3 separate regions of the Homo sapiens genome follow, and all the other regions are linked to region 1. Evidence: fine-mapped expression QTL. A gene starts in region 1. Each other region holds a variant in brackets. All regions are shown on one strand. Distances are from middle to middle. Region 1 holds the start of INTS11 (integrator complex subunit 11). Region 2 has its middle 7.4 kb from the start of MXRA8. Region 3 overlaps MXRA8 (matrix remodeling associated 8).

Region 1 (6,897 bases):
GCTGGGGTCAGGGCAGACTCGGGACTCTGGAATCGCCAACAAGACAGTGGGGTTTAAAGATCCTGAGACAGTGAAGGCATCAGAGAGGGTGAAGCCTGGAGGGCCGGGTTCAGAAAGTAGGGTTCAGAGGGCAGGGCCGGAAGAACAGACAGAGACCAGGCCATGTGTGTGACCAGTAAGGCAGGCAGGGAGCAGATCCTGGGGCCTAGAAGCCCCCTGAGGATCAAGGATGGCACAGGCCCCTTGCCAAACGCTGCCGAGACCAAGCAAGGTGGCCCAAGCCCCACAGGCACAGACATGGGACCCTCAAGGCCCCCAACAGGAACCCACCTAATGATCACACAGTCCAGGAAGTCTGTTAGGCGGCCGTTCTGGGTGATGTAGGAGAAGTCAGGGAAGCGTCGCTAGGAAGGATGTGGGGGTTTCAGGTTGCACAGTGGTCTCCAGGCAGCATCTGGGGCCACCCATGCCCCAGGGAGGGGCCCCCAGGAAGGGGGGTTCTATGTGCAGACTCAGGCTGGGCACTCCCATCCCGCAGGTGGCACCAGGACCCCTGGCTGCTCACAGCATCCGGAGGGGCCGAGGTTACCCCCAACCTCACTGACAGATGTGAGCTGGAAGCTGAGCCCAGGGTCTCACGGAGTCCAGCCTACAGGACCCCGGGGCTGGGGCTCAGCGCCAGCACAGGGGGACCCCACCATGCAGGGGCTCACCTCGGCCAGGCCCACCCATCCCTGCTCCCCACAGGGTGCAGCCATCCAAGCACAACCACTGCTGCCCACCACCCCACTGTCCCGGCTCTGAGGCCCAGGGTCCAGCTGTGGATGGCCGGCTCTCCCAGCCTCTGGGCCTCCTGCCCAAGGGACTCACGTCGTCATTGAAGCCCATGTGCATTCCACAGTCCAGCATGACATTCTTGCCCGCAATGGAGACCAGGATGCAGCTTCGGCCCACGTCCTGGCCGGCCCCTACTCGAGGGAGGGCAGATGAGTCACTGCTGCGCCCCCCGCCCCCTGTGCTGCCTCCCCAAGCTCTGCAGGACCCCAGTGCACTGAGGAAACCGGACCAAGTCTGCTGTGTGGACAGACACATGGGCCAAGAAGCAGGGCCACCCCTACTCACAGGAAGGGGGACACAGGGGACCATGCCCCACACCATCATGTCCAGGGTGGAGGCTGGCAGCCCACACGCCCTCCCCCGCCAGCTTCCCCTGGCCTCTTAAGGTGGCCACGGCCTGCTGGCTAAGTAGTGGGCACTGTGCTGTGGCCCTCAGCCTCCAACAGAGACAACGGCTGGTCTGTGGGGCCAACACCTCGGTCAGAGTCACTCCTGGGCTGTGGCTGGACCCCCAGCAGAGCTGCAAACCAATGAGGCCACCTTCTCCAGGATCTTTCCCCAGGCAGGCAAGGCAGTAAGTGACTAAGTGCTGGCACTGGGTGTTCTCTGGTGGTGCGGCTGTGGAGGGGCGCCACACAGCCTCAGCCATGCCATAGCGAACACGGTGCCAGTGGTCCAGCAGTGGCCAGCGTGGCAACACGAGCCTCACACCACTGCACACCATGCAGCCCCCAACACAGACCCTCATCTGCAGCCCTCCCACACTCCTGACAGCCAAGCAGCCCTGCCCAGCTGCTCCAGCCAGAGGCCTTGGCCAGCCAAGGCACACTCAGCCCCCTCATGTGGCCTGGGGGCCCGAGAGGAAAGGGTCACGGCCCCTGCACAGACTGTGCCTGGGCAGGAGTCTGATGGCAGTGAACAGTTTTCCCCTTGAATCCCACCCACCTCCCCCTGCCAGCCACTCGAAGTGTCCAAAGCCAGCACCACACATCAGGATGACGGGGCCACAGCCGAGGGGCTGCCTGCCACAGAGAGGGGATCTCAGGTTCTCTTCCAGGCCTGTTCCTGCCCCCGCTGGGTGTGAGCTCTCTGAGAGCAGGGTCTCAGCTGTCTCCTCCCTCTGCATCTCCTACCCCAAGCCACGCCAGGCTCACAGAGGCCCTCTGGCACCTGTGGGAAGGGAGGGCCGCCCCTCTTCATGCCCAGGGACCTAAGGCCACAGAGGCACTTGTGGCACACGGCCCCGAGGCATGGGGCCCGGGCTGGTTTTCTGAATTCCAAAGCCCAGTCCTGAAGTACTGGCAGTCCCGCCTCCCGACAGGACCCACAGTGATCCCAGGAAGGAAAGTGGAAAGGTGCGGGAATAGAGCCTGGAGATACACGAGGGGACAGGGCTCAGAAGACAGGAGGAGATATCCCTGTCAGCAAGGAGACAGACGGCAGACAAACAAGACACCCAAAGCACGCCAGACGAAGGTTACTATGACAGAAAAGAGCAAGGTGAGAGAATGAGGAAGCCTCAAAACTTCCAGAACCATGACAGGAGACTGCTCCGAGAAGCCAACTTTTGAGCAGGGGAGGGGAGGGGTAGGGTGGGGGAGGGGGAGGGACGGGGTGGGGAAGGGATGGTCCAGGGGAGGAGAAGAAGCGGGGCGGGCGGAGGGAGGACAGGCAGCAGGGAGGGACAGGCAGGGGGGAGGGAAGGGACCAGCAGGGGGAGGGACGGGCAGGGTGGGTGGGGGGACCGGCGGTGGGGAGGGATGGGCAGGGTGGGTAGGGGGACCGGCGGCGGGGGGGGTAGCCACACACAGGCCAAGGCGTGGGAGTGACCCCAAGGACACAGCAGTGGTCCAGTGAGCGCGGACACGGAGCCCGAGGCAGTCCCTGGTGCAGGGAAGCGGTGAAACAGGACTTCGGCTTTGATGATACCTTGGCTGAGGTGACCTTGAGAATATACCCAGGTACAGATTGCGGGTAATTGAAGCCACATGAAAGATCAGAAAGATCAGATGTCCAGAGAGTGGGCAGAACAGGCAGCCAAGAGGCCAAATGGGAAAGGGGCAGGCTGGGAGGACCCCACGGAGGACCCAGAGAGCAGGGGAGGGCAGTGGGGCCCATGCAAACAGCTGCAAAATGCCATGGGGTGTGCACAGGCCAGGGGTGTTCACAGCACAGTGTCCACACCGGGGCGGGGGGCACCCTCCGAGGAAGCGCTCACGCCATGGGGGAGGACATGGAATCCCGTCCTGGTGTCTGTGCTGGAAGGTGCCCTCGACCCCCTGCCCGGTGGAAGGACCAGGTTCCAGGACAGCACAGGGCAGGCACCTGTGGAAAACGCTAAGGACATCAGGATGACTGGCCACCAACACCATGTCCCTCCAGCTGTTTCTGAGACCCTGGATTTTGACTAATTTTTTCCTTCTTCACATCGTTCTATACTGTTACGACTTTGACTTTCTTTTGAGACATGGTTTTGCTGTCACCCAGGCTGGAGTGCAGTGGCACAATCATGGCTCACTGCAGCCTCAACCTCCTGGGCTCAAGCAATCCTCACAACTCAGCCTCCCAAGTAGCTTGAACCACAGGCACACACCACCACGCCCTGCCAATTTTAGCATTTTTTTTTTTTGGAGTGATGGGGTCTTGCCATGTTGGCTAGGTTGGTCTTGAACTCCTGGGCTCAAGCGATCCTCCCACCTCTGCCTTCCAAAGTGCTGTGATTGCAGGCGTGAGCCACAGTGCCCAGACTGTCAGGACTTTTAGGAGTACATATTTGCGTTTTTTGCTATTTTTTTCAGTGTTGCAGAAATCAGGTAGAACAAGAGCTAAAGTGAGAGTTGATTGTAACTCGGGCGTGAGCACACAGAGTGGTGGACAGAAAGCAAGACGTGAGGAGGCAGAAGCGGGGCTGGGGGGCTGAGGGGCTTGCGGGGTTAAGGGGCTTGGGGGCTGGGGGACTGGGGGGCTGAGGGGCTGGGGGGCTGAGGGTCTGGGGGTCTGCTGGGCTGAGGGGCTGGGGGACTGAGGGGCTGGGGGACTGAGGGTCTGCTGGGCTGAGGGTCTGGGGGACTGGAGCGCTGGGGGGCTGGGGGGCTGAGGGACTGAGGGGCTGAGGGGCTGGGAGGCTGAGAGGCTGGGGAGCTGGGGGGCTGAGGGTCTGCGGGGCTGAGGGGCTGGGGGGCTGGGGGGCTGAGGGGCTGGGGGGCTGAGGGGCTGGGAGGCTGAGAGGCTGGGGAGCTGGGGGGCTGAGGGTCTGCGGGGCTGAGGGGCTAAGGGACTGAAGGGCTGGTAGGGCTGGAGGCGGCAGCGCGCGGCACGGGGAGGTCAAGGCACCGACGAAAGCGCACAGCGAGCGCGAAGGCCCCGCGGCCCCATCTGCGACGTCCCCTCACGGCCGCCTGAACCTCGGGGCTCGCGTTCTCGCGTCACTGCCGGAGGCCCGGGGTGCAGGGACTAGGCCGCCTCTCGGCTCCCACCAGGGCCCGCGCGGGGAGGAGACCGGAGGACGCCCGCGGCGCGCACCTGGCTCCACGAGAAACGGGAGGGAGCGGGGCGCCCAGCCCGCCCGGAGCCGCATACGGAGCCCACCCCACAGCCCTCCCGGCGGCTCCCACTCACCCAAGGGCGTGACTCTGATCTCAGGCATCGTCTCCGCCGCGCTCCCGGACCCGCGAGGCCCGCCTGCGGTGATGCACTGCGCAGGCGCAACCACCTCGCTGCAACTTCCGGTGCGCTAGCCGGAAACGCGGGTCGGGGCGCCGGGCCTCCTGATTGGGCAGCATCCAACCAATCAGGGCGGCGGGCGAGGGCGGGGCGAGGGCGGGGCGGTGGGCGGGGACGGGGCCCGCACGGCGGCTACGGCCTAGGTGAGCGGCTCGGACTCGGCGGCCGCACCTGCCCAACCCAACCCGCACGGTCCGGAAGTCGCCGAGGGGCCGGGAGCGGGAGGGGACGTCGTCCTAGAGGGCCGGAGCGGGCGGGCGGCCGAGGACCCGGCTCCCGCGCAGGACGGAGCCGTGGCTCAGGTCGGCCCCTCCCCAACACCACCCCGGGCCTCCGCCCCTTCCTGGGCCTCTCGGTGGAGCAGGGACCCGAACCGGTGCCCATCCAGTCCGGTGCCATCTGAAGCCCCCTTCCCAGGTGAGACTCGTAGCGCTCGCTCGACAGGGTCTGGTCCCACCCACAAGGCCTGGGGCGCCGTGGGGCCCCGTCTCCTGCTGGCCCCCCAGCCTGCTGTCAGCCCCCGTGCTCTGTGCTCAGGCCGCCCTCGCGCCCGGCCCTGACCTTGGGCCGTTGGGCTGCCCTGGGAAAGGCCTGGAGGTGTCCTGGGTCACCTTCCTGGGCTGGCAAGCTGCCTGCCTCCTGCACAGCCACTGCCCTTCCTGTTGTTACCGAGCCACCAGCCACAGCTCTGAGAAGCTCCTGGCAGCTTCTGTTTGCCACTGGCTCGAATCTGGGCAGGAAGGCAAGGCCCGCAGAATATCTGGTGACCAAGAAGGAAACCCCAGAGCCTCAGAGACCATCTTCTCAGTGGACAAAATTAAGGCCCGAGGAGGGGAGGGGCGTGCTGGAAGTCTATGGGACTGCATCTTTCTGAGGCCCAGGAGCAGCCATCCCCCACACCTGAAGCCCGGTGAGCTCACATCTGGGGCCTCCGCCTGGTGCCAAGCATGCAACCCAACCTGTGGGGCCTGCAACGCCAGGCTTCAGCACCCTGCAGGCACCAGTGCTCCAGCAGCCTGGGCCACGGGCTGGGCAGGGCTTGCAGCCCATGATCCCTAGTGATGAAGGGCCCAGTCCTAGGGTGCTGAGCAACCTGCCCACCTGCTCCTGGCCAGGAGCTCTCACCACGGCTGGGTGCCCTTCCCCCTCCCCCACCGATGGAGTCCCTGCAGCCAGGGAGGCCAGGACAGGGCTCCCAGCACCAACCGGCCTAGGAACCCCCAGGCCCTCTTCCTGGTCGAGGTGGAATGCAGCTGACTCTCAGGTTCCCCAGAGCAGGTGCGGGCCCGTGGGGCACCCGGGGAGACAGGGCAAGGGTGCTTGGCAACACTCACACAAAGCATGGGTGCCTGGATGTCTGTGGATCTGTGGAGTGACTATGTGAATGCCAGCAGAATCCAAAGCAGGGCCTGGGCCACTCGTGGAAGGCTCCCTAGGGCTAGTACAAGAGCCTCGTGGCAATCTTCTGAGTGGTAAAACCCATCTGTGTGGGACATGGAGTTTCAGCAACAGGAGTGAAAACACGTGTCCATCCATCCAGCAAGTGCCAGCCCTACAGCCTCTTTTCTGCTTTTGGGGATGTAGCAGTGAGGAAGATGGGGCAGCCTGCCCGGCAGCATCCCCCCACCCCCGGCCCCACCTGTCTCTGCTTTCTGCTGTGTCTGTTTTCTTGTCTAGGACTTCAGAACTTCCTGTCTTTGTTGTCATCTGACCCCACCCCAGATGGCTGCTCGCACTCCCCATGCACCCAGATAGATGGCTAGGATGGTGCTTGGCTCTCGGCAGGGGCTTAGTATTTCTCCAGCTGGTAAAAGCAGATACAGCATCTAGAGAGAGAAACAAAAACAAGAAAGCACCAGCAGAGACACCTGCTGCAGACAGCGGGGCCTAGTGGTCTGATAAAGCCAGAGGGGGCCACTCTCGGGGTCAGGGACTGACACGGAGTCAGTGGCCTGATCCACAGGAGGGGCTGTGCCAAGGTCCCTGAATGCGCAATCCTGATGAAGGGTGGGTCAGGGTGGTGTGCCTGAGAGCCTGCGGCTTGGCTGGGAGCAGAGCCAGGCAGCTCCTGGGAGGAAGCTCCATGAGGGGCATGAGTGTTCAGTGAGCGGCAATGGGATCGCAGCTATTTTGTTCCCCTCCACACACAGAAAATGAGCCACAGAGCAAGCTGACCCCAGCGACACAGCCCCCCAGCCCTACTGTATTTCCGTTCCTATCAAAAAATGGATGACTCGGAGACAGGTTTCAATCTGAAAGTCGTCCTGGTCAGTTTCAAGCAGTGTCTCGATGAGAAGGAAGAGGTCTTGCTGGACCCCTACATTGCCAGCTGGAAGG
Region 2 (6,897 bases), 42 kb after region 1:
GGCCAAGGTGGGCAGATCACCTGAGGTCAGGAGTTCAAGACCATCCTGGCCAACATGGTGAAACCCTGTCTCTACTAAAAATACAAAAAATTAGCCAGGCGTGGTGGCAGGTGCCTGTAGTCCCAGCTACTTGGGAGGCTGAGGCAAGAGAATTACTTGAACCCGGGAGGTGGAGGTTGCAGTGAGCCGAGATCGTGCCGTTGCATTCCAGCCTGGGAAACAGAGTGAGACTCCATCTCAAAAAAAAAAAAAAAAAAAAGGGTTGGGCGCGGTGGCTCACATCGGTAATCCCAGCACCTTGGGAGGCCGAGGTGGGTGGATCACAAGGTCAAGAGATGGAGACCATCCTGGCCAACATGGTGAAACCCCGTCTCTACTAAAAATACAAAAAATTAGCCAGGCGTGGTGGCAGGTGCCTGTAGTTCCAGCTACTTGGGAGGCTGAGGCAGGAGAATCACTTGAACCTGGGGGATGGAGGTTGCAGTCAGCCGAGATTGCACCACTGCACTCCAGCCTGGTGATAGGGCGAGACTCCGTCTCAAAAAAAAAAAAAGAAAGGAGTGAAACCCCATCTCTACTAAAAATACAAAAATTATCCGGGTGTGGTGGTGTGCACCTGTAGTCCGAGCTACTCCAAGGGCTGAGGCAGAAGAACTGCTTGAACCTGGGAGGCAAAGGTTGCAGTGAGCCGAGATTGTGCCATTGCACTCCAGCCTGGGCGACAGAGTGAGACTCGGTCTCAAAAACAAAACAAAAGGACAGGGTCTCACTGTGTCACCCAGGCTGAAGGGCAGTGGTGCAAACATCTTGGCCCACTGCAGCCTCAAATTCCTGGCCTCAAGCGATCCTCGGCCTCTCAAAGCAATGGGATTACAGGCGAGATCCATCAGTTTTTTCTTTTTTTTTTTTTGAGACAGAGTTTTGTTCTTTTGCTCAGGATGGAGAGCAGTGGTGCAATCTCAGAATCACCGCAACCTCTGCCTTCCAGTTTCAAGCTATTCTCCTGCCTCAGCCTCCCGAGTAGCTGGGATTACAGGTGCCCGCCACCACGCCTGGCTAATTTTTTTTTTTTTTTTTGAGATGGAGTCTCGATCTGTTGCCCAGGCTGGAGAGCAGTGGCGCAATCTCTGCTCACTGCAAGCTCCACCTTCTGGGTTCATGCCATTCTCCTGCCTCAGCCTCCCGAGTAGCTGGGACTACAGGCGCCCGCCACCACATCTGGCTAATTTTTTGTATTTTTTTTAGTAGAGACGGGGTTTCGCCGTGTTAGCCACGACGGTCTTGATCTCCTGACCTCATGATCCACCCGCCTCAGCCTCCCAAAGTGCTGGGATTACAAGCGTGAGCCACTGCACCCGGCTTTTTTTCTCTTTTTTTGAGATGAAGTCTCGTTCTGTCGCCCAGGCTGGAGTGCAGTGGCGCAATCTCGACTCACTGCAACCTCCGCCTCCCGGGTTCAAGCAGTTCTCCTGCCTCGGCCTCTGGAGTAGCTGGGATTACAGGTGTGCACCACCACACCCAGCTAATTTTTGTATTTTTAGTAGAGACAGGGTTTCACCATGTTGGTCAGGCTGGTCTCAAACTCCTGACCTTGTGATCCACCTGCCTCAGCCTCCCAAAGTGCTGGGATTACAGGCATGAGCCACCACGCCCGGCGAATTTTTGTATTTTTAGTACAGACGGGGTTTCAATGTGTTGGCCAGGCTAGTCTCGAACTGCTGACCTCGTGAGCCACCCACCTCGGCCTCCCAAAGTTCTGGGATTAGAGGTGTGAGACACCATGCCTGATCAATTTTAAAATCGGGAACAAAGAACACTGAGTGCTGCCAGTTACCTGCGGTGGCTCCACCTGCAGGGTCAGACTCCACCTCTGGGACTCTGCATCCGCCTCCCTTCCCGGCTGGGCACGTCTTAGGGCAGCTGTCACACCAGCCTCAGGCGAGGGCCAGGCCACGGCTGCCACATGGAATGCACATCCTGGATCCTCCGTGGTGGCTTCTCCCTCCTCACCAAGGGAGGTCGGCTGTTACATGTAACATTTCTACCTTGGTTATAATTACAAATTTGATGTACGCAATTATGATAGAAAAATCGGCTGGGTGCGGTGGCTCACTCCTATAATCCCAGCACTTTGGGAGGTGGAGGCAGGAGGTTTAAGCCCAGGATTATGGAGACCAGGCGGGACAATATAGCAAGACCCAGTCAAAAATAAAAAAATAAGGCCAGGCTCACCCCTATAATCCCAGCATTTTGGGAGGCCAAGGCAGGCAAATCACCTGAGGTCAGGAGTTCGAGACCAGTCTGGCCAACATGGTGAAACCCCCATCTCTACTAAAAATACAAAAATTAGCTGGGGATGGTGGCATATGCCTGTAATCCCACCTATTCAAGAGACTGAGGCAGGATAATCTCTTGAACCTAGGAGGCAGAGGTTGCAGTGAGCCAAGATCACACCACTGCACTCTAGCCTGGGTGACAGAGTGAGACTCTATATTAAAAAAAAAAAAGCCAGGCGTGGTGGCTCACCCCTGTAATCCCAGCACTTTGGGACACTGAGTGGGGGCGGATTACCTGAGGTCGAGAGTTCAAGACCAGCCTGGCCAACATGGAGAAATCCCATCTAAAAATACAAAAATTAGCCGGGTATGGTGGTGCACGCCTGTAATCCCAGCTACTCGGGAGGCTGAGGCAGGAGAATCGCTTGAACCTGGGAGATGGAGGTTGAGGTGAGCCAAGATTGCAGCATTGCACTCCAGCCTGGGGAACAAGAGTGAAACTCTGTCTCAAAAACAAAATAAAAAACAAAAATAAGGCTGGGCATGGTGGCTCATGCCTGTAATCCTACCACTTTGGGAGGCTGAGGTGGGCAGATGACCTGAGGTCGGGAGTTCAAGACCAGCCTGACCAACATGGAGAAACCCCAGCTCTACTAAAAATACAAAATTAGCCGGGCATGGTGGTGGGCACCTGAACTCCCAGCTACTCTGGAGGCTGAGGCAGGAGAATCACTTGAACCCAGGGGGCGGAGGTTGCGATGAGCTGAGATCGTGCCATTGTATTCAGCCTGGGCAACAAGAGCAAAACTCCCTCTCAAAAATAAATAAATAAATAAAAATAAAAATAAAAAAATTAGCTGGGCATGATGGTGCACGCCTGAAGTCCCAGCTACTCTGGAGGCTGAGGCAGGAGAATCGCCTGAACCCAGGAGGCAGAGGTTGCAGTGAGCTGAGATTGCACCATTGCACTCCAGCCTGGGTGACAAAGCAAGACTTTGTCTCAAAAAAAATAAATAAAAATAAAAATTAGGCCAGGTGTAGTGGTGCACACTTGTGATCCCAGCTAGGAAAGGCTGTGACAGGATGGCCTGAGCCTGGGAGGGGAGGACGAGTATGAGCGTGAGAATGATTGTGAAAGGATGACTATAAATTGAGTGTGAATTAGTGAATTGGTGAGTGTGAAGTAGTGCAGATGGGTGTGAATTCGTGAGACTGTGTGTGAATGAGTGTGGATGGGTGTGAACTGGTGATTGTGCATTTGTGAATTGGTGTGAATTGTGTGGTGTGGATGAGTGTAAACGGGTGTGTAAATTAGTGAATTGGTGAGTGTGAAGTGGTGTGGATGAGTGGATGGATGTGAATGGGTGAGAGAATGAATGAGTGGATGAGTGTGAACTGATGAGTGTGAATGGGCGAGTGTGAATGTGTGAATGGGCGAGTGTGAATGTAAATGAGTGTGAATGGATTGGTGTGCGTGAATGAGTGTGAACGAATGTGGATTGGTGTGTGTAAATGGGTGTGTGAATGTGTGAATGGGTGTGAATGAGTGGATTGGTGTGAATGGGTGAATGACTGGATTGGTGACTGTGAATGTGAATAAATGTGAATG[AGTGTGATTGAATGAGT/A]GTGAATTAGGGTGAATGGGCGAGTGTGAATGTGTGAATGAGTGGATTAGTGTGGATGGGTGTGAAAGGGTGAGTGAGTGAATTGATTAGTGAGGATTGGTGAGTGTGAATGTGGGTGAGTGTGGATGGGTGTGAAGGAATATGAATTAGTGTGAGAACGAGTGTGAAATGAGTGTAAATGAGTGGGAATTAGTGAATTGGTGTGAAGTGTGGATGAGTGTGGATGGGTGTTAATTGGTGAGTGTGAATGTGTGGATGGGTGAATTAAATTGGTGAGTGTAAATTGGTGTGTGTAGTGTGAATAAGCGTGTGGATGAGAGTAAACAGGTGACTGAGTGAATTGGTGTGAAGTAGTGTGGATGAGTGTTAATTGGTGACTGTGTTAAAGCGTGGGTGTGAATTGGTGTCTGAATGGATTGGTGAGTGTGAATTGGTGAGTTGGTGTGAATTGGTGAGTGTGAATTGGTGAGTGAATTGGTGAGTTGGTGTGAATTGAATTGTGTGAATGAGTGGATTGGTGAGTGAATTGGTGAGTTGAATTGGTGTGTGTAGTGGATGAGTGTGGATGAATGTGAATTGGCGAGTATGGATGTGTGAATTGGTGAGTGTGAATGTGTGGATTGGTGAGTGAATTGGTGAGTTGAATTGGTGTGTGTAGTGTGGATGAGTGTGAATTGGCGAGTGTGGATGAGTGTGAATTGGTGAGTGTGTGAATGTGGATTGGTGAGTGAACTGGTGAGTTGAATTGGTGTGTGTAGTGTGGATGAGTGTGGATGTGTGGATGAGTGTGAATTGGTGACTGTTGAGTGTGGATGTGTGAATTGGTGAGAGTGAATGTGTGAATTGGTGAGTGTGAATGTGTGGATTGGTGTGTGTAGTGCGAATGAGTGGATGAGTGAATTGGTGACTGTGTGGATGAGTGTGAATTGGTTGTGGATGTGTGAATTGAGTGAATTGGTGAGTTGAATTGTGTGTAGTGTGAATGAGTGGATGAGTGTGAATTGGTGACTGTTAGAGCGTGGATGAGTGTGACTTGGTGTATGAATGAGTGTGGATTGGCGAGTGTGAATGAGTGTGGATTGGTGAGTGAATTGGTGAGTTGAACTGGTGTGTGTAGTGTGGATGAGTGTGAATTGGTGAATGTCGATAGGTGTGAATTGTTGAGTGAGTGTATGAATGAGTGTGGATGGGTGTGGATTGGCACGTATGAATTGGTGAATGTGAACTGGTGAGTGTGAATTAGTGTAAATTCAGTTCAGTGGATCAGGAGCAACTTATTTTTTATTTATTTTTTGAGACGGGGTCTCACTCTGTCCCCCAGGCTGGAGTGCAGTGGCACCATCTCGGCTCACTGCAAGCTCCGCCTCCTGGGTTCACACCATTCTCCTGCCTCAGCCTCCCGAGTAGCTGGGACTACAGGCGCCTGCGACCACGCCTGGCTAATTTTTTGTATTTTTGGTAGAGATGGGGTTTCACCGTGTTAGGCAGGATGGTCTCGATCTCCTGACCTCATGATCCGCCCACCTCTGTGCCCCAAAGTACTAGGATTACCGGCGTGAGCCACCACGCCCGGTCTTTTTCATTTTTATTTTTGAGACAGTCTCACTCTGTTGCCCAGGCTGGAGTGCAGTGGTGCGATCTTGGCTCACTGCAGGTCAACCTCCCAGGCTCAAGTGATCCTCCTACCTCAGCCTTCTGAGTAGCTGGGACCATAGGTGGGCACAACCACACCTGGCTTTTTTTTTTTTTTTTTTTTTTTTTTTTTTTTTGTAGAGATGGGGTCTTGCTCCATTGCCTAGGCTGGCTTTGACCTACCAGGCTCAAGTAATGCACCTGTTTCAGCCTCCTGAAGTGCGGGATTACAGGCAGGAAGGTGCAGCAAGACTAGAATAGGCAATATCTCAGTTTATTGTACTTATGAGAGATACTATTCTGTACAACTTTCAATGGTGGGTGTGTTCATCAGATAGCGGTGTAAAAAGATATTTCTTATTTTGTATCTTGATCAAAAAAGTCTGAAAGTAGGCTGGGTGTGGTATCTCACACCTATAATCCCAACACTTTGGGAGGCCAAGGCAGGAGGATCATTTGAGGCCAGGAGTTTGAGACCAGGCTGGGCAACTTAGTGAGACTCCATCTCTGCTGGAAAAAAACATTAGCTGGGCCTGGTGGTGTATGCCTGTAGCCCCAGCTACTTGGGAGGCTGGCTTGAGCCCAGGAGTTACAGGCTGCAGTGAGCTATAATGGCACCACTGCACTGCAGCCTGGGCGACAGAGGGAGACCCTGCCTCTTAAAAAATAAAAATAGGTCTGGCTGGGCGTGGTGGCTCACGCCTGTAATCCCAGCACTTTGGGAGGCCGAGGCGGGCAGATCACCTGAGGTCAGGCATTTGAGACCAGCCTGGCCAACATGGTGAAACCCTGTCTCTAATAAAAACACAAAAATTAGCCGGGCGTGGTGGTGCATGCCTGTAGTCCCAGCTAGCAGGGAGGCTGAGGCAGGAGAATTGCTTGAACCTGGGAGGTGGAGGTTGCAGTGAGCTGAAATCGCGCCACCGCACTCCAGTCTCGGGACAGAGTGAGATACTGTCTCAAAAAAAAAAAAAAAAAGGTCTGAAAGTCACCAACTTTAAAACATGGTACTACCGCAAGAATCATTTAAAAGGACTAAAATTGCCTCTGGGAAAGGTGGTGTGGGGATGGGGGAAGAGATACTGTTTTCCTTTATTTTTGAGATGGAGTCTCACTCTATCCCTCAGGCTGGACTGCAGTGGTGCGATCTCGGCTCACTGCAAGCACCACCTCCCGGGTTCACGCCATTCTCATGCCTCAGCCTCCCGAGTAGCTGGGACTACAGCCGCCCATCACACCTGGCTAGTTTTTTGTATTTTTAGTAGAGATGGGGTTTCACCATGTTGTCCAGGATGGTCTCGATCTCCTGACCTCAGGTGATCCACCCACCTCGGCCTCCCAAAGTGCTGGGATTACAGGCGTGA
Region 3 (6,698 bases), 31 kb after region 1:
GGGCCTGGACCGGGCAGGAGCGACGGGGGGAGTGAGGAGGGGGCCTGGACGGGGCAGGAGCGACGGGGGGAGTGAGGAGGGGGCCTGGACGGGGCAGGAGCGACGGGGGGAGTGAGGAGGGGGCCTGGACGGGGCTGGAGCGACGGGGGGAGTGAGGAGGGGGCCTGGACGGGGCAGGAGCGACGGGGGGAGTGAGGAGGGGGCCTGGACGGGGCAGGAGCGACGGGGGGAGTGAGGAGGGGGCCTGGACCGGGCAGGAGCGACGGGGGGAGTGAGGAGGGGGCCTGGACGGGGCAGGAGCGACGGGGGGAGTGAGGAGGGGGCCTGGACGGGGCAGGAGCGACGGGGGGAGTGAGGAGGGGGCCTGGACGGGGCAGGAGCGACGGGGGGAGTGAGGAGGGGGCCTGGACGGGGCTGGAGCGATGGGGAAGAGAGTGCGGTGGGGTCCCTTGGTTCCCGTCCCCAGGAAGCCGGCGAGATGGAACTGGCATCTATCGGGCCCTGACCGTGCTGGGGGCTGCACCGGCTCGGAAAGAAACCGATCAGTGCAGGCACCAGTGCTTGACGGTCAGCTTGGGCCTGGGATCCTGACCCTGCACCCGGGCTCTGAGAGGGAGAACTGTGGCGTTTGCTCAGCCAAGCCCGGACAGCTTAGCCGCCAGCCCCCTCCACCTTCCCGCAGCCCTTCTCTTCCCCAGAGGTCAGAAGCCAGGCAGGAAGACCTAAGAGGGGCTATCTGTTGAGGCCCCAGGGAGGGAGGAAGCCTGTCCCTGCCCTGAGGGCCTGACCCCAGGCTAGGTCTCAAGAGAGGCTGGAAGCCAGAGGCCTGAGGCCAGTCCCGTTGCTGACGCGGATGTGGTCCAGCTGGGGCCCTGACAGGTGTGGCCACTGGTGAGGCCAGAGGTAACCGGGCTGGGAGGGGGGTGCATCTTCAAGCCACACCTCCCCAGACCAGCCTCCCTCCCTCCCCATCCATGCTTGTGTGGGGTCCTTGTGGGCAACTGTCACCCTTTCCCACCCCCACTGTCCTGGGAGGACTGGAGGATGGGGTTGGGTGGTGACGCCAGCTTCAAGAAGCAGCAGTTAGTCGCTGGTCTGTGCTGCCAGGACCCCGGGCCACGGGCCTTCCTGCTCCCGCCACTCCTCCCACCGCCTGAACTTGTGCTGAGATCCTGCACCCAACCAGCTGATGCCTGAGCGGGAAAGGATTCTAGGGCCAGATCCGTGCTGGCCTGGCCAAGACTCTTGGAACCACCCTGCTGTCCCGGGCTGTCTCTGCTGGAGCCTCTTTGCTCCCGCCCCCTTTGCAAGTGTCTGACCCGCATCCCACTACTCCCGCTCCTCGTCCCTCTGCCTCTCCAAGAGCTGTGCTCCCACGGCCTTCCCTCTGGCCTCACAGCCACCACCACGTCCCCCCTCCTCACGTCCAGGTCAGCCCTCAAGGGAATCTGAACTCCTCCACGACCAGAAGCCACACAGAACTAGCTCAAAGGTCCCCTTCCCAGGACACCGACTCCCAGAGGACCCAGACCCAGACCTTTCAGCCCAAGGAATGGGATGATGTCAGGGGTTCCAGGTGGAGACGAGGACTCCCAGGCCCAGACTCATGCCTTGCCCAGCCCCAGGAGACGGAGTTTCAGAAGCATACCTGGGACAAGTCTAAAAATCAGATGGGGACTTTATTGTGATGGTGGCAGGTCCACCAGCAGATGCAAATGTGGGGTGCTGAGAGTGGCAACACAGGCCACCCCAAACCAACTTCACTCCCTCCCCTGTCCTCAGCCAGTACAGAAGCCAAATGTAGCCCCAGCCCTAGACTCCAGCCCAGGCAGAGTCCAAGGGAGGGGTGTCAGGGTCAGAAGTCACAGGGAGCCCAGTGACTATCAAGGTGGCTGAGAGCAAGGCTAGGGTAGGGATGGGGCAGAGAAAGGGCAAGGGGTGCAGCCCCAGGTGGCCCAAAGCAACACAGAGGAGCAAGGGCTGGCATTCAAGTCAGCAGGTCCCTGGGGAGAACAGATGGTGCCTGGAGTCCCACATGGTGGTACAGGTGGGGGAGCTCT[C/T]GGTGGCAGGCAGCACCCCAGGAGGAGTGGGACTCCTGCCGAGGCTGACCCCAACTTCAAGGCTGCCAAGTTCTGATGGGAGTGTCCTCCTCCAGGAACATCTCCCAGCCCCCGACGAGCAGAGCCCTGGAGGAGTGGGACTCCTGCCCTGAGGCTGACCCCAGTTTTGGGGCTGCCAGGTTCTGATGGGAGTGTCCTCCAGGAATGTCTTCAGGCCCCCAGCGGGCAGAGCCCAGAAGGGTCTGAGGGCATGATGGGCATCAGTGGGATTTTGGTTGTGCCAGGGGTGGGCAGGGCCACCCGTGAGCAAAGGCCGCAGGGGTGGGGGCTATGCTGCCACCAAGCCCCTGGGAGAGGGGTGTGGAGGCGGCCTCTGCATACGCCCAGGCCAAATTCCAGGAAAGCGGGACCAGCCGCTGGAAGGGGGGTGAGCCCCGGAGCATCAGGAGATGCCCCGAGGAGCACAGACAGGAGAGGTGCAGCTGCTGGCCCAGCCAGGAGCCCAGGGCCTCCCTATTTGCAGTTCTCCTTCCGGAACCCTGGAAGCCAAGGGCGCCAACGGGTTGGCGGCTGTCCTCCACCCTCATCACAGTGGGAGACACAGGGCAGACCCCCCCGCAGGACTCCCCAGGGATTTCTGAGCCTGAGGTGGCAGGGGCCCCGGGCCTGGCTGGTGCCTGCCATCGTTGGTCCCAGGTGAGGTGGAATGGGGACAGGCAGGGCTCTGAGATGGGCTGAGGTCGCCCCCGCCGCTCACCTTTGTCTAGGTCGATGTACTTGGCAGGCAGGGGGCTGTGGGCCAGCTCCGCCCTCTCCTTCAGGATGTTGTTTTTGTAATCTGTGGGAGGAGAGGAGGCTGAGGTCCCCGCTCCCAGGATGCACTTCCCAGCCCGGGACTGGGAGCCGCGCCTGTGCCCTCGTGTCCCAGCACTGCCTCACCTAGCTGGATGTCCTCACTCCTGTAAAGCATCTGGTCCCCTGCAGCCACAGCGAACTCCGCCAAGTTAACATCCTTCCTGGATGGCGAGGGTGGGAGGAGGTTACAGCTGGGTGGGGTGAAGGGGGCCCTGGTCCCCAGGAGGGCCGGGAGGGGGGCACTCACCCCTTTGACTTTCCCGACTTCTGGTCCGAGTATTCGTAGCCTGGGAAGGAGACTCACATTGGGGGCAGTGCCGCCCCTTCCGCAGGTCCCCCAGCCCAGAGGACCACCCTCCCGCCCACCTCAGTCTCCTGGGGCCGCTGGCTTTGCCGGGGCAGCCTCACCTCCGCGGCGCCTGCGGGCGGCCAGGAGGACAGTGACCAGTAGCAGGATGAAGAGCAGCAGCGTGGCCAGCACGTAGCCCAGCTGCTGGAAGAAGTGGGCTCGGCTCTCGGGGACGATGACATTGATGACGTTGTGGCCGCGCGCCAGTGTGGGGTCTGCGGGGAACGCGGGGTCGGGGCGGCGTCAGGTACCAGCAAGACCTGCGCCCCGACCCGGGCCACGGCCCCCGCTGGGATCCGCGGGCCTCGGGCAAGGGACAGCGGGCGCAGAGCAACCCCCGGTGGGGTGGGCTCCCGCCTTCCCGGGTCCCAGGGAGGCCTCCTTCACCTGGGCCTGGGGCGCCGCTGTGGCTGGAGCCGTTGCCCGGAGAGCCCCGGGGGGGCGGCTCCGCGTGGGGTTCGGCGACCGTCAGGTGGAAGACGCGGCGTTCGTGCAGGCCACAGTAATGGTGGTGCAGGTGGCAGGAGTAGGTGCCCTCGTCGGCGACCTCCAGCGGCTCGATACGCAGTGAGAAGTCACCGCGCTCAAAGGCATCCGCGCCCACAGCCACGCGGTCGCGCAGAAAAAGGGGCCCGTAGGCGCGGCGCTCGCCCGACGCGTAGAGGTCCAGCAGGCGGTCCGCGCGGTCGTGCGGGACCCCGGGCGGCTGCCGGTCCCAGTGCACCACCTGTTGAGCCTCCTCCACGTGCCGGTCGGTCCACACGTGCCCGCGGTTCACGCAGGTCAGAAGCGCGGGTGCGCCGCGCGCCACCGCCAGCACCTCCTTCTCGCCGTCCCAGTAGGCGGGGGTGGCCGGGGCTGCGGAGGGGGCGCGGTCAGCGGCGCGCGGGCCGGGGCGGCGGTCGAGGGTCGAGGGGCGGGAGCTGGGGGGCGGGGGGGAAGCACTCACGGCCGTCGGTGACCTCCAGGCGGACGGCCAGGCTCTCGTAGAGGTGGCAGTAGTGATGGTGCAGGTTGCAGGTGTACAGCCCCGCGTCCGTCTCCTCCACCGCTGCGCACCCAGGAGGAAGCCGCGCGTGAGCCTTGCGGTGCCCCCGACCCCGCGGCCCCGGACCCCTGCCCCGACCCCGCGGCCCCGGTCCCCGGTCCCCGCACCGCGGATGAGCAGCGAGAAGTTGCCGTCGTCGAAGGCCGAGGCCGAGAGCTCCAGGCGGCCGCGGTCCCGCGCCTCGTACACGCGCTGCTCGCCCGCCGAGTACAAGTCCAGCAGGCGCCGCGCGGGGCCACCCCCGGGGCCGCGCAGGTCCCAGTGGAGCACGCGCTGGCGGTCGTGCAGCCGGTCCTGGGTCCACACCATGCGCGGGCTCTGGCAGCGCAGCACCGCCCGGGCGCCCGCCTCCCAGCTCACCGCGGACTCGGACACCACGGAGCTGCCAGCAGCGGCGGGTACCGAGGACCCTGGTGGGGGAGGGGAGTCGGTGGGGGAAGGGGTGGGCCCCCTAGGGCCCTGGTTGGGGGAGTCAGTGGGGGAGGGGCAGGGCCCTGGTGGGGGAGGGATGTCTGTAAGGGACGGGCAGGACCAGAGGGCCCTGGTGGTGGAGGGGAAGTCCGTGGGGTGGGGCAGACCCCCGAGGGCCTGGATAGGGGAGGGGGAGTCACTGGGGGAGGGGCGGACCCTGATGGTCCTGATGGGGGAGGGTGAATCAGTGGGGGAGGGGCGGGCTCTGAGGACCCTGGTGGAGGAGGAGGAGTAACTGGGGGAGGGGTGTGCCCCAAGGACTCTGGCGGGGTTGGGGGCATCTTTGGGGGGGTGTGGGCCCCTGAGGCCCCTCGTGGTGGGGGAGATTCCATGGGGGAGGGGCATGCCCCCTAGGGCCCATGTGGGGGAAGGGGAATCATTGGGGGAGTGGTGGACCCCCGAGGGCCCTGGCAGGGGAGGGGGAGTCCATGGGGGAGGGCAAGTCAGTCGGGGAGACATGGGGCCCAAGGACCCTAGTGGGGGATGGGGAGTCCATGGGGGAGTGGTGGGCCCCGAGGGCCCTGGTGGGGAAGGGGACTCAGTAGGGGAGGGGCAGACCCCGAAGGCCCTGGTTGGGGAAGGGGAGTCAGTGGGGGCATCTGTGGGGGAGGGGTGGGCCCCCGAGGGCCCTGGTGGGTGTGCGGGAGTCTGTGGGGGAGGGCCAGGCCCCCAAGGGCCCTGGTAGGGGAAGAGGAGTCATTGGGGGAGGGGGAGTTATTGGCAAGGGGAGGTGCCCAAGGGTCCTGATGAGCAAGGGGGAATCAGTGGGGGAGGGGCAGGGCCTGAGGACCCCCGGGGGCTGGGCCTGGCAAGATAGGAGGGGCTGAGGGGGAGTGGGGGTGGGCAGCTGGGGCTGGGGTCACTAACCTGAGTGCAGGAGAACAGCAGAGCCTGGAAGGAGAGGAGTGAGCTGGAGAGGCCACCCACAGCCCCACCCAGCCCCGAGACCCCCCACTTGGCCCCCAGAGTCCCTCCTGTAGTCCCAAAGTGGATGCTGTGACACCCACTTCAGTGCAGGGAGGACGCCTCTCACACAGACCTACATAGCCCTCCCTGCCACCGTGCTGGGCTTTGGATGGCACCTGCCCTTGAGTGGGGAAGCCAGGGCATGGGCGTGGGCCAGGGCCAGGCTCCAAGCCAGCCGGTTCTGGGGTGTGTGCTTGTCACCGGGGCCACTCCACCTGGCTGCACCCAAGTCACCCAGAGCACCAAGGAGGCTGGATCTGTGGGTTCCCCCACGCTCCCTCCAGGGCTGTGCCCCAGCCCCCGAGGGTCCTTGGACCCTCAGACGCTGGGGACCCCACACCACACCTAAGGCTCAGCGCAGCCCCTGAGGTGCTTCCGCAGGGCAGAGGCCTGAAGGCTGAATGTGGGTCGTGACCCCGGCTGCCGCCCCACAGGCCCGCGTTGCTGCTTGAGGGACTCTCATTGTCGTAGGCCGCCTCGGCATCCACTCTGAATCTAGGCTGGACTTTCTCTGACCGGAAGCGGGGCTGCCACCCGGGACAGTTTCCAATTCACATCCCCCGTCCTCGAGCTGATCCACCCAGACGCCCGCCCTACGCACTGTCCCCTGGTGACCACCCCCTGTGTCCCCACAGACCCCACGCCCCACATGGACTGTGCAGCTGCACCACGGAGTCCCCCCACAGTCAGCGTGGCCCCACGGGGCTCGTGCCGCTTGCCTTAAACCCACCAGTTAAAACTCCCCCACCAGGCATGGTGGCTCACGCCTGTAATCCCAGCACTTTGGGAGGCCAAGGCAGGTGGATCACCTGAGGTCAGGAATTCAAGACCAGCCTGGCCAATATGAAAAACCCCATCTGTACTAAAAATACAAAAAATTAGCCGGACGGGGTGGTAGTGGGCGCCTATAGTCCCAGCTACTTGGGAGGCCGAGGCAAGAAAATGACTT

Evidence for each region. PIP is the estimated chance that this variant, and not a neighbour inherited with it, causes the effect.
Region 2: its variant is the best candidate, but not a certain one, in a credible set for the expression of INTS11 in whole blood (INTERVAL, PIP 0.72).
Region 3: its variant is the best candidate, but not a certain one, in a credible set for the expression of INTS11 in tibial artery (GTEx, PIP 0.62).

What each region holds. Positions count from the first base shown.
Region 1 is chr1:1,320,126-1,327,022 of GRCh38, forward strand. INTS11 (integrator complex subunit 11) reads right to left here and starts at 4,535. Exons shown (of 17, transcript NM_017871.6): 1 at 4,456-4,535; 2 at 871-968; 3 at 331-404. The coding sequence starts at 4,483. CPTP (ceramide-1-phosphate transfer protein) reads left to right here and starts at 4,677. Exons shown (of 3, transcript NM_001029885.2): 1 at 4,677-4,977; 2 at 6,711-6,897. The coding sequence starts at 6,786. RefSeq lists enhancers at 1,724-2,232, 2,996-3,505 and silencers at 4,324-4,453, 4,634-5,133.
Region 2 is chr1:1,362,542-1,369,438 of GRCh38, forward strand. It overlaps a transcript of MXRA8 not described here. Among named protein-coding and RNA genes, the nearest start is that of MXRA8, 7.4 kb to the left of the region's middle. The variant AGTGTGATTGAATGAGT/A (reference allele first, on the strand shown) is at 3,886.
Region 3 is chr1:1,351,031-1,357,728 of GRCh38, forward strand. MXRA8 (matrix remodeling associated 8) reads right to left here. Exons shown (of 10, transcript NM_032348.4): 2 at 5,651-5,674; 3 at 4,420-4,722; 4 at 4,214-4,315; 5 at 3,652-4,122; 6 at 3,324-3,479; 7 at 3,163-3,202; 8 at 3,000-3,076; 9 at 2,818-2,898; 10 at 1,661-2,599. The coding sequence ends at 2,574. Among named protein-coding and RNA genes, the nearest start is that of MXRA8, 4.2 kb to the right of the region's middle. RefSeq lists enhancers at 2,467-3,098, 3,099-3,730, 3,731-4,361, 5,486-6,038, 6,626-6,698. The variant C/T (reference allele first, on the strand shown) is at 2,061.